Linked DNA regions of Homo sapiens: region 2 is linked to region 1. The links come from fine-mapping of genetic effects on gene expression. A gene starts in region 1. The other region holds a variant in brackets. All regions are shown on one strand. Distances are from middle to middle.

Evidence for each region. PIP is the estimated chance that this variant, and not a neighbour inherited with it, causes the effect.
Region 2: its variant is the best candidate, but not a certain one, in a credible set for the expression of KCNQ2 in cerebellum (GTEx, PIP 0.70).

What each region holds. Positions count from the first base shown.
Region 1 is chr20:63,469,962-63,475,462 of GRCh38, forward strand. KCNQ2 (potassium voltage-gated channel subfamily Q member 2) reads right to left here and starts at 2,694. Exons shown (of 17, transcript NM_172107.4): 1 at 2,207-2,694. The coding sequence starts at 2,502. RefSeq lists an enhancer at 1-523.
Region 2 is chr20:63,414,157-63,419,357 of GRCh38, forward strand. KCNQ2 (potassium voltage-gated channel subfamily Q member 2) reads right to left here. Exons shown (of 17, transcript NM_172107.4): 13 at 747-970; 14 at 1-37. Among named protein-coding and RNA genes, the nearest start is that of KCNQ2-AS1, 32 kb to the right of the region's middle. RefSeq lists an enhancer at 3,400-4,047. The variant T/C (reference allele first, on the strand shown) is at 2,416.

The sequences.
Region 1 (5,501 bases):
CACAGAGGGCACTGGGCCGGCCTGGAAGAGTGTGATGCCCCCCAGCAGTGGTGTTCACAAAGCCCTGGGTTGAGAAGCAGCTGTGCCGACGTTACCGACGGAAAACTGAGGTTTGCAGAGGTTCTGAGACCAGCCCCCAGTGTCCAACCCGAGGCAGGACCAGAAACCCTGCTCTCCAGCCCCGCCGCTTAGAAAAAATCCCCCTCCCAAAGGGGCCGCCTCCCTGAGTCCAAGCCACCCCTGCCCACAGCAAAGGAGCTGAGGAGAGCCTGGGAGCTCAGGGAGGTTCAGGGAGCTCCGTGCCCACAGCAAAGGAGCTGAGGAGAGGCCTAGTGCAGGCTGGAAGGCGGGGCTGTTCAGACGTTGAGGGTCTCGCCTGAAGCCCCCGCATGCTGCTGCTCTATCTTAGAGGGGGCCCGTCCGGACTGGGGGTGGTCAGGAAGAGACGGCTCAGACCCCACATGTGCAAGTGTCCCCATGCTTTGCCCCAGTTCTGGACTGCTGCTCTCAGGAGGCAGAGACAGGAAGGAGAGACAGAGGGGCTGACCCACGCAGGCCCAGGCAGGGGGCGGCCATGCGGAGAGCTGCTGACCCAACGGGAAACCTCAGGAACAGCCACGCTGGGCCCTTGGATCATGGACTCAAAGCAGAACCAACCCTGGGTCAGACGCAGAGCGGGGCGCTGGCCAGGCTGTCAGGGCAGGAGGGTTGTGGGGGTGGGTTCTATCCTACCCTCCTCCGGGGAGTCACCTTGGGCAGGGACCTGGCTGACCAGTACCGGCCCACCAAGAGCCCCTTTGGCCCCCAGCCAGGTGGGGGCCATCAGGGGAGGCCATTCCTGAGAACACAGAAGCTCATCTGGGGATTCGGGAATGAACCCTGGACTGGAAAAGCTAGACTCACCTCCTGGGGGCCACAGGGCTTCCAGGACCCAGGAGGTCGGAGAAGCTTCTGCTTGGGGAGTCCCAGGCTGGGTGCCCAGGGGCCCTCCACGGAGACACCCTCCCTGTAAGCGGCCTGGCATTTCCCTCTGGGATCTTCTCCCTACCCCAGAACCCTCTCATATCACAGTCCACGGAGGGTCTGCTAAGGGCACACTCAAGGCCACACGCAGGCTGGGGCACACTCGTGGGGCACACACCCCTCTCGGCCCAGGTGGGCGCCCGACCAGCTTGTGACCAGTCTGCCCCTCACTCCCATCCCAAAATGCCTCTCACACAAAATGGCCGGTCCCGGAGCTCAGCGGGTCCCTTGTTCAGCTGGGATGGGAGAGCAAGCGCCCTGGCGCGGGGAGGCTGTGCACACCGGCCGCACAGGCCGCACACGCAGCGGGCCGTGCAATTCCACATGCGAACACCCAGGTGCACACGGACGCAGGCTTCGGCCGCCCCCCGCCAGCCCTGCCCCAGGAGGCAGCCGTTCCCTGAGCCTCGCCCGGGAAGAGGGGACAGCCCCTTCCAGGCCCAGGGCTGGGGGTCCCAGGTCTGCCGCAGCCCCTCCCCCGGGCCTCGCTCTGCCAAGGAGGGGTCCTGAGCCCGGGATGTGCACGGGGGCGGCCGGCGGCTGCAGAGATGGGACAGCGCAGGAGCTGAGCGCAGGAGCTGAGGGGGTTCGCGGGGCCAGGGAGGGGCGTCGGCGCCGAGGGGGCAGGACAGACAGCTGCGCTCAGCCCGGGCTGGGGTGGGGGGGTCATGGGAGGGCCCCTCCCCCATCTCAGGAACCCAGAAGCTCACCCTAGTCTGAGGGAGAGCGGCTCGGGAGGATGGCGGAGGACAGGCCAGACCCCTCCCCCCCGCCCTCGCTTGGTCGGGCGGCCCCAGCCCCGCGGGTCCCCGAGAGTCCCGGAGAGTCCAGACCCAGCGCTGCCGCCGTCCCTCCCCGGCCGGCCCTTTGTTCGGCGCAGAGGCCGCGGGGAGGGGCCTCCCAGGCTGAGGAGGGGGCTGGGGCGGCCGCACGTCTCTGTCCTGCGGGCCTGGAGCCCCCACCCCGACCTGAGCGGCCCCGACCCCGGAATCCTTCCTGCCCGCGCGCTGTACAATCGCTCTCCGGTCTCGGCCCAGCACTCCCGCCGGGGAGCGCCGGCCCCGGACCCAGACCCAGGGGCAGGGAGCCAAACCCGCCGCAGCCAGCCTGGCCGGGGTCGCCGATGGGGTCGCCGATGGGGGTCGCCATGGGGGTCGCCACGGGGGCCCCGCCGGCCACTCACACGTAGGCGTGGTAGATGAACGCCCAGCCGCGCGGCCGCTCCAGCACGTTGTAGAGGAAATTCTGCAGCTTGCGGTAGAAGGCGTTGCGCTTGGGGGGCTTCCCGGCGCCCGCGCCGCCCGCGCGAGGTTTGCTGAGGATGCTGCCGCGCTTGGGGGCCTCGGAGCCGGCGATCAGCAGCGCCCCGTCCCGGGTGGAGTCGGGCGCGCCGGGGTCCAGCCCCACGAAGCCCACCTTCAGCTTCTTCTCCCCGCTCGGGCCGGGGTATACGCCGCCGTTGCGCGACTTCTGCACCATGGTGCCTGGCGGGAGGCGCCCCGGGTCGGGCTCAGGCTCAGCGGGGGCGGAGCGCGGGGGGCGGCGCGGGCCCCAGCCCAGGCCCCCCGGCCGGGAGCCGCATGGCCGAGGCGGCGGTTCCGCACTCCTGCCGGGCTTGGGCCGCGCGCGGAGACGCTGCGGCCACCTCGCTCCGCGCGCACCTCGGCGCCTGGCCCGCGGCCGCGCCGGCTCCGCCCGCCGCCTCGCCCCGCCCCGCGTTAACCCCCGCGACGCCAGTCGAAGGAGAGGGGAGGAGAAGAGAGGGAGGGGAAGGGAGGGGAGAGGGAGGGACGGGGAGGGGAGGGGAGGGGGGAAGGAGAGGAGAGGGGAGGAGAGAAGAGGGAAAGGGAGGGGAGGGGAGGGAGAGGGGACGGGGAGAGGGGAGACAGGAGGGGAGGGGGAGGGGAGGAGAGGGGAATGGGAGGGGAGGAGAGTGGCGGGGACGGGGAGAGGGGAGACAGGAGTGGAGGGGGGAGACAGGAGTGGAGGGGGAGGGGAGGGGGGAGAGGAGGGGGAGTGGGGGAGGGGGAGGGGAGGGCAGGGGGAGAGGAGGGGGAGGCAGAAGGGACCAAGGCCCGCGGGACCAGAGCTCTGGGCTGAGCCTGCCCAATCCCCCGGCCATGTGCACACTGACCCTGCGGTCACCTTTGAGTCCGGTAGTACTAACCAAGTGGACCTGCCTGGTGGCCCCAGCGCTCCTGGGGTCCCAGAGCGGTGCCCAGCCGCCTGAGCAGGACTGGAGTCTTCTCAGCTGGGCCCTGGGAGTGGACGCCTCCGGGAAGGGATGGGGGTAGGGGCTCTCCCCAAGACTCTGTTAGGGCTCAGCCCATGGTGACCTCATGCTCTCGGTGTCAGGGTTGCCCAGGCAGTAGGACCCCCTAGACCCCAGGGTGTGTGCAGGGAGGGTCTGTGGAGGCTGGAGGCACCCTGCAAGGAAAGCAGCCCAGGGGAAAGGGGGTGGCCACAGAGGCCGGGAGGCAAGAAGAGGAGCAAGGGCCATGGGGTGGGGGATGGGAGAGAGTCACTCCTAGAGGGCCTTGAAGCCCCCCAAGGGGCCTGGACTTAGTTATGCAGACCCCAGAAGGGGCCTGTGGCAGGGGCAGGGACTGGAGGGTGGCCCCAGGGCAGCAGACAGGCCAGCAGGAAGCCCAGTGCCACACCTCGGGACAAAGGAGGCAGATCTGTGCCTCCTGGACACAGATGGGACGGTGTTTCCTTGGGGGCAAGTGCGCGGAGGTGGCCTCCCCCCTGCCGGCAGCCATGTGTCCTGGGAGGGGTCCCTCTGGAGCTGCTGCTGGGAGACCAAGGGACCCCTGCGGCTCAGTGCTGCCCGCCCTGTGAGGTGCCCCGCCACTGGGCCTTCCTCTGCACATCCAGGAGGGGTGTCATCTTCGAGTGCGTCTCTGACTACATCCAGCCTGTTTGCACGTTCGCCTGGCACCATGGGTTCTACCCAGAGAAAGGCCCTCTGCTGAATCGCTGGCGCCGTCCTCGCAGGTGACCTGCTCATAAAACAGCCCTAACCCTGGTGCAGAGTGAGCTCTTGAGTTGTGTTTGCCCTTTGGTTTCCAGAGCTAGTGGCCACGGGGCCTGTTTTTGTTGTTGTTGTTTTGTTTTTAACTAGGCTGAATACAGAAGGGTCGGTGCAGGCAGAATGCTAACCTGTACGTTATCCAGGACGTTGGGGATAGACGGCAACTTACACAAGCTTGTGCACATCCAGGGGTACTTTCTGGATCCCCGCCTCCCTGCCTCTGTGCCCACGCATTGGCTGTGATTACCAGCATGAAGTGGGCTTGCCCCAAGCGGCTGCGGTTTCTCTCGATTGTTAAGGGAGGAGGCACCAGCCTGGTGCTTTCAGGGGAGGGAGAGGACTTCAGTATGCAGAAGGAAGAGAGCACCGTGGCATCTCCCTGCACACGCTGGCTGGTGCCGCTGGTCTTTCCCACTCACCAGAAGACCCGAGGGAGCAGCCGTAGCTCAAAATGTAAACCCTGCAGGGCTGGGGCCCCTCATCCTGTGGGGGGAAGCCCCAGACTATCCGGTGCCCCTCGGCAGTGCCCGGGCTACACGTGACCTCTCCTGGGCAAGCAGTCATCTCAGGTTTGATGTCAGAGCCCAGTGGGACCCAAGGTCAGGGCTGATCCACAGAGGATGAAGGAAAAGTGACCCCAGTTCCCGTTTGAGCAGATGCACCAGAGCTGAGATGGGAGCAAGGATTAAGGTGCTCTGGTGTCCAGGACATTGGGAGAGACAAACCTGTTCATCTTATTTTTCAGAAAAAAAAGGGGAAAACCCTGCTGAGGTCTTGGGGAGCCATCGGCTGGCTTCACAGCCTCCTGGGGGTGGCCGAGAGTGGCATCCCCCGTGGGGATGCCGGGCTGGAGGGGCCGGCTCAGGATGCAGGTGGAGCTTTGCACCCTGCAGCTCGCGGTTCTCCCGTCTACAAATGGCGTTGGCTCCAGCAGCTTTGCCACACCTTGGAAGGTTCTGGAAAGTGAATCCTGCATCAAGGCTTGAAAATCCTTGCTTCCTCCTTTGTTTAGGATGTCCTTTCAAAGAGCTAGCTCATTAATCATTTATGTTTTTAATTTTGTGTCTTGCACACCCACGGGCTACATTGTCAGCAATCTGGTTACCCGCATGCCTGCCCCCTGTCCCCTCCTCTGCGCCCAGGCAAAGTGGGTCGTGAAAATGCCCAGTTGGGGTAAATTTCATCCAAGCAGGAGGAATTCCATTTATGTAAAAATAGATGGGAAAAGCGTTCAGGCTCAAACAATCTTTGCCAAGACCGCATCGACAGGACTCCAGAGAGGATGAGCAGAATTCAGACGTACGTGGTGCCCAGCTCCAGCGGAGGAGACAGTCAGTCTTCGCCCAGGCGGCCAGGGCAGCAGCGGATTCCACGCGGGCGCTGTCCCTTCAGCACCTCCAGCACCATCCTCTCCCCGGAACCTGCAAGCCCAGCCCCTTCTCTG
Region 2 (5,201 bases), 56 kb before region 1:
TTGTCATCCACAATGTCCTCTCCGGGGAGGCTTGCTTCTGGGGGGAAGGAGACAGGCCGTGAGGGGCCGAGGGGGCCGGGAGACCTATTCCCGGGGTCCTGCAGGGCACACCGGCTAGACAGAGCGCCAGGGAGCCCCTCGAGGCTCCCTGTGGTGCCCCTCGGGTGCACCTGCTTTTCTGGAAACCCACCCATCTGCACCCAGCTGCTCTCGAGTCAGGACCTTCCCCGGCAGGCTGTGGCCACAGGGAGTGGCCGATATGGGGCGTCAAAGGACATTCTGGCCAATGGATGAACAGAACATGGCGCATCCACGCACAGATGTTAACGGCGGAAGGTGCAGGCCTGACATCTGAGGCTCAGTGAAGGAAGCCAGACCCAACGGCCCCACGTGGGAGCCGCAGACACGCACGGCCCAAGAGCAGCGGGTGCTGGGGCTGAGGCGGGGAATGGGGTGACTACTGATGGGGTCATGGTTTCCTTCTGTGGTGATGAGAATGTTCTGGAACTAGGCTGAGGTGGTGGTGACAACTCCACCGTGAGCGTGCTACATGCCACTGAATTCCTACACTTTTAAATAGTTAATTTTAGGTTGCACAAGTCTCACCTCAATTTTAGAAAGGATAGGGGGTTCCCACTCCAAGAGCAAGCAAAAGCAGCTGCGACGCCACAGGGTGGCCACAGTAGCGTGGCCACCACATCCATCCCCGGAGAGGATGGACCAGGAGAGGATGCGGCCACACCCACCTTCTGAGTTCTGCCGTGACGCGGCACCCTTGATGCGGAAAGCCTGGCGTGCCCGGCTGCGGTCCCCGAAGCTCCAGCTCTTGGGCACCTTGCTGGGGCTGTCCTCGAGGCTCTGGTCGGCGCTGGGTGACCGCCTCACAGTCTGGGCCTGCGGGGACCCCTTCCCCTTGGCAGCCACGCCTCGGGGGCTGGAGAAGACACGATCTTTCAAACTGACCTTCTGGCTGCTCCCACGGGAACCGACAGACAGACAGAAAAACAGGGAGAGAAGTCACTCTGCAAAGAACACAGGCCGTGTCTGCTCATGGCCGACGCCGCCCATGCGCCGGAGGGAGACACAGGTCTGAAGAACAGCCAGCCACACGGGTGGCTCAGAGCAGGTGCCACGGGGACCGAGCACCCGGCGGGAGGGAGGGAGGGGAGGCCACGGGGACCGAGCACCCGGTGGGAGGGAGGGAGGGGAGGCCACGGGGACCGAGCACCCGGCGGGAGGGAGGGGGGGAGGCTACCGGGGCCGAGCACCCGGCGGGAGGGAGGGAGGGGAGGCCACGGGGACCGAGCACCCGGCGGGAGGGAGGGAGGGGAGGCCACGGGGACCGAGCACCCGGCGGGAGGGAGGGAGGGGAGGCCACAGACACTGAGCACCCGGCGGGAGGGAGGGAGGGGAGGCTGGGTGGGCAGCAAGCTCCCCCGGCTGGCTCAGGCGTGGCCAGAGGTTGGCCATGTGGGGAGAGTTGATGTCTGTGGACTCTTAAATCACTTTCCGCTACCACCACGAGGTGCCGGAGCCTTCCTCACACTGTCCTGCCAGCCCCTCACCCAGTGACACTCAGGGCAACGGGCATCCCAAACACCGGGGCTGTGGCTCTTCCTCGGGCACCTCTGTCTGCCCCGGCCCCGCCCGTGGTTTCCCCTGTGGCCTTTTCACACCCGTAACTGCTCCCAGGAAGCAGCCTCCCTCCTCCCCTCCCACGGCCTGTCCCTCTCCTTCTGCCCCAGAGTCGAGGGGCCAGGGGACAACAAGGACATTGGGGGCCAAGTCTGCGGTGGACCCTTGTTCAGCCACACTCCGGCCTTTCCACCCACCCCGGGGGCCTGCCTGGTGGGATGGGCTTCAGGAGGGCTCAGGCCTCCCCTGTCAGGCTCCCCTCCCACCAGGTCCGTGTCAGAGAACTGCTCCTTCCGGCTTCTGGAAGGAAGGAATGGATAACGGGGCTCCTCCGCCAGCTGGGCCTCACTATCCAAGTCCTGCCCCAGGGCAGGGGGAGGCAGCCTCCAAAGCCACAGCGCTGTGGCCCGGCCCCCTCGGCCTGCGAGGCGTGAAGCAGGATTTGCAGCTGTGTCTGGCTGGGTCTCCAGCTCCATACTCTCGGGGGGTCCTTGGGCCTGCCTTGCCCCCGAGTTTTTTGGTGACCGTGGAGATGGGTTTGCACCCGAGTTCTTCAACTCCAGCGTCCGCCGGGCGACAGTGAGGGGAGGGGAGGGTTCACTGTGGTTGGTGGTTGGGAGACGCCAGGCAGATGTGGCCTCCTGAGGTCTGGAAAGCATCAGAACCCCCTGGCTCCCTTGAGGACAGTGGGGCTCTCACGAACTGGGGACCCGCTCATGCCCAGCCATGCTTAGCAGCCACGGAACTTCTCAGGGTGGTTCTGGGCAGGGCCCAGAGCAC[T/C]GTTGCTGGAGCCTGAAACAAGCCTTCGGGTGGGGAGGCCCCGCAGATCCCTGACACACTTCAGAGAGGAAGCCCAGTGCCTCACGGGCTCCCTGATCCCACGGCGGCTCCCCAGCCAACAGCGAGGGACTGAGGCCCCGGTCAGCAGCCACCATCAGCCCCGACTCCAGACCCACAGCCAGAGAGACACGCCCACCAGACGGCACAGAGATAACCAGCCACAGACATGAGAGCCCACCGCGCCCGTCTGCCTGGCCTGGACACGCGGATCGCTTGGCTGCCCCTCCCCACCCCATCCCCCAGGCAGCAGGTGACCGCCCAGACCATCTGTGCCCACTCAGCAGACCATCTGTCCCCACTCAGGCGTCTCTGAGAGAAAGAAAGAAGCCCCTGGGTGTTGTGCCCGCTCGGGGAAGCAGAGACGGAGTGGCCGAGATCCCCCGAGTCCCGAGGCGTCGCGTGCTTGGGGACGTCAGGAGCCGATGGTACAGGCTCGCTCAGGACCCCAGTCCTGAGTCCACACCCCTGCACTGCCTGAGGCCAACACACCGTGCCCATGGGGGCCAGGGGTGCTCAGAGTCCTGGTGCTGTGGGTGCCTCTGTCCCAACGGCCTCTGGTCCCCATCCCAACAACAAAAGCACAGGTGGTCGGGGAGAACCGGACGGGGGCCAGGGGAGCACATGGGCACAGGCTCAGCGGGACTCCTGGAATGTTCTCTCTTTCTCCACCGCACGAGCCATTTCAAAGGCAAGAATAGGCCCCTCCTGACCCCGCTCAGGCAGGCCTCAGGGCAAGTGGGAGTCACTGGAAGACTCAATTCCTCTCTCTGCGTTTCCACCCGAGGCAGGTCCAGTCACCAGAGAGAGAAGCAGCCACCTCCTTTCTCACGGCAGCTGGCAAAGCACCGGGTGGAGGACAGAGCCGGTCGGCCCAACTGTAGCTTCGGGGCTGCCCTTGGCTGGTCTCTGGGCAGAGCCCGGTGCTGAGGGCTTGCAGTGGGAAAGGCACAGCTTGAGGAATGGGCATCAGATTCCCACCTGCGGCCCCGGAGGGGAACGGGTCAAATACCCAGGCGGCCACACAGACGTGCGGGCCAGGAAGGGTCAGGCCCCACAGTCCGCAGGGAGTTGCAGGAAGGGAGTGGCGTGGATTCCACAGGCCCCAGGAGAGAAGACCCAGCCCCGACGTCTGCTTCCCATTTTTCAGGGGGGACCCCCCGCTGACCACGACAAGGAGCCACAGCCCCGCCAGCGGCAGACACACCCTGCTGGACCCGATGCCCAGCACAGCCCCAGGGGCCGCCGGGACGCAGCCCACGTGTACTGCCCCAGACAGAGCCGGCGGGAAGGAGCCTGCCCTGGCCTCGGCGCGGCCCTGCTGTCCCGGGTCTCGGGCTCCGCTCCCACCTCAGATCTGCGAGGGAGGCTCTGCCAGGAAGAGGAGGGTGGCGCGACCTGGACATGTCCTTCCCTCCCCTGGACCTCCACCATGACCCAAACTCTGCACCCTCCAAGCACAGCTGGTGAGGCTCCATGCTGCAGACACCCGACCCCGCCAGCCTGCCTCAGCTGCCAGGAGCACGCGTGGTCTCGCAGGCCCTCCCTCGGCCACAAGCCAAGAACAAGCGCACGCGAAAAGCTGCCGCCACCCACCTGGGAGGAGCCCTCGGCCAGAGCTGCCCTCTGTGTGCGAGGGGCGTCCGTGGCACCTACGCTTGGGGCTTACGGGGCCGGGGCAGGCTCAAGAAGCACCTGAGAGCGCGCCATCCCCACCCGGCCTGCCACCCTCCCTCCCAATGGTGAAATTCAGATGTGCGGTGCCCGCAGGAAACAGGAGGCTGAGGAGCATCCAGACCCCTGCCCAGCTGGTGTCCGGACCAACGACGCCCAGGAAGCGTGAGGATGAAGGGGCCTCCCGTGGGGGCTGCTCGCAGCAGGACAGGGCCTGCCCTGGGTTGTTCTCTGGCCTGGGCTCCCACCCCCACTTTCAAACCCCTCTGGTCCCCAAGCAGCCTGACCTCAGCCCCTGCCCTGAGGGACCAGCCTGCGGCCAGAAGCACCCTGAATAGATGCTCCGGACACGCAGGACAGCTGCTAGCGCCCCAGCAGGCCATGCCCCAGGCAGCCCACACGCCCGTCTCCCTCTCTGGAGCTGCCAACAGTCTCCCCGCAAGCACCAACGCCCCCAGAAGCACACAAGCAGCAAAGTCACAGGGAGAGGGTGGCATGGAGTCGCGGGCCCCCCATGGAGCAGGGTCCGAAGCATGCACGGATGCAGATAGGCAGCATGCAGCCCCACCAGCCCTCCAAGGCCAGCACCACCGGCGGCATGCACATGCCAAGGAGAGCCCCACAGGAGCACGACACAGCCACCTCCACCTTGCTGGGCTGTGCTGGCCAGGAGGGAGGGGCCCCCAGCGCAGGCCTGCACACACCCAACAGCAGACAGGGGACGCGGGGACAGGGGAGGTGCGGGTCACGGTGCAGGCCAGGAGCCCACGGTGCAAAGGGGGCGGCTCCTCCCCCGTCCTATTTCCACCTGCCCTAAACCAGGCCTGTTGTTGGGAGAGGGAGCCGCGGGCCTCTGGCTTTCTGGGGCTTCTGATGCATCAGGACCCTGAGGAGCCCGGCACACACAGACGGAGCTGCCTCCCGCGGTCGAGGCAGCCAGGAAGGCTCAGTCATCCTCAGGTACGCAGCAGAGGTGCTAGAGTGACAGCCCCAGGGGAAACGCTCCCTGAAGAGCAGTCGGGGACCCCAGGAGGCACGGACGCCTTGCTGGGTTC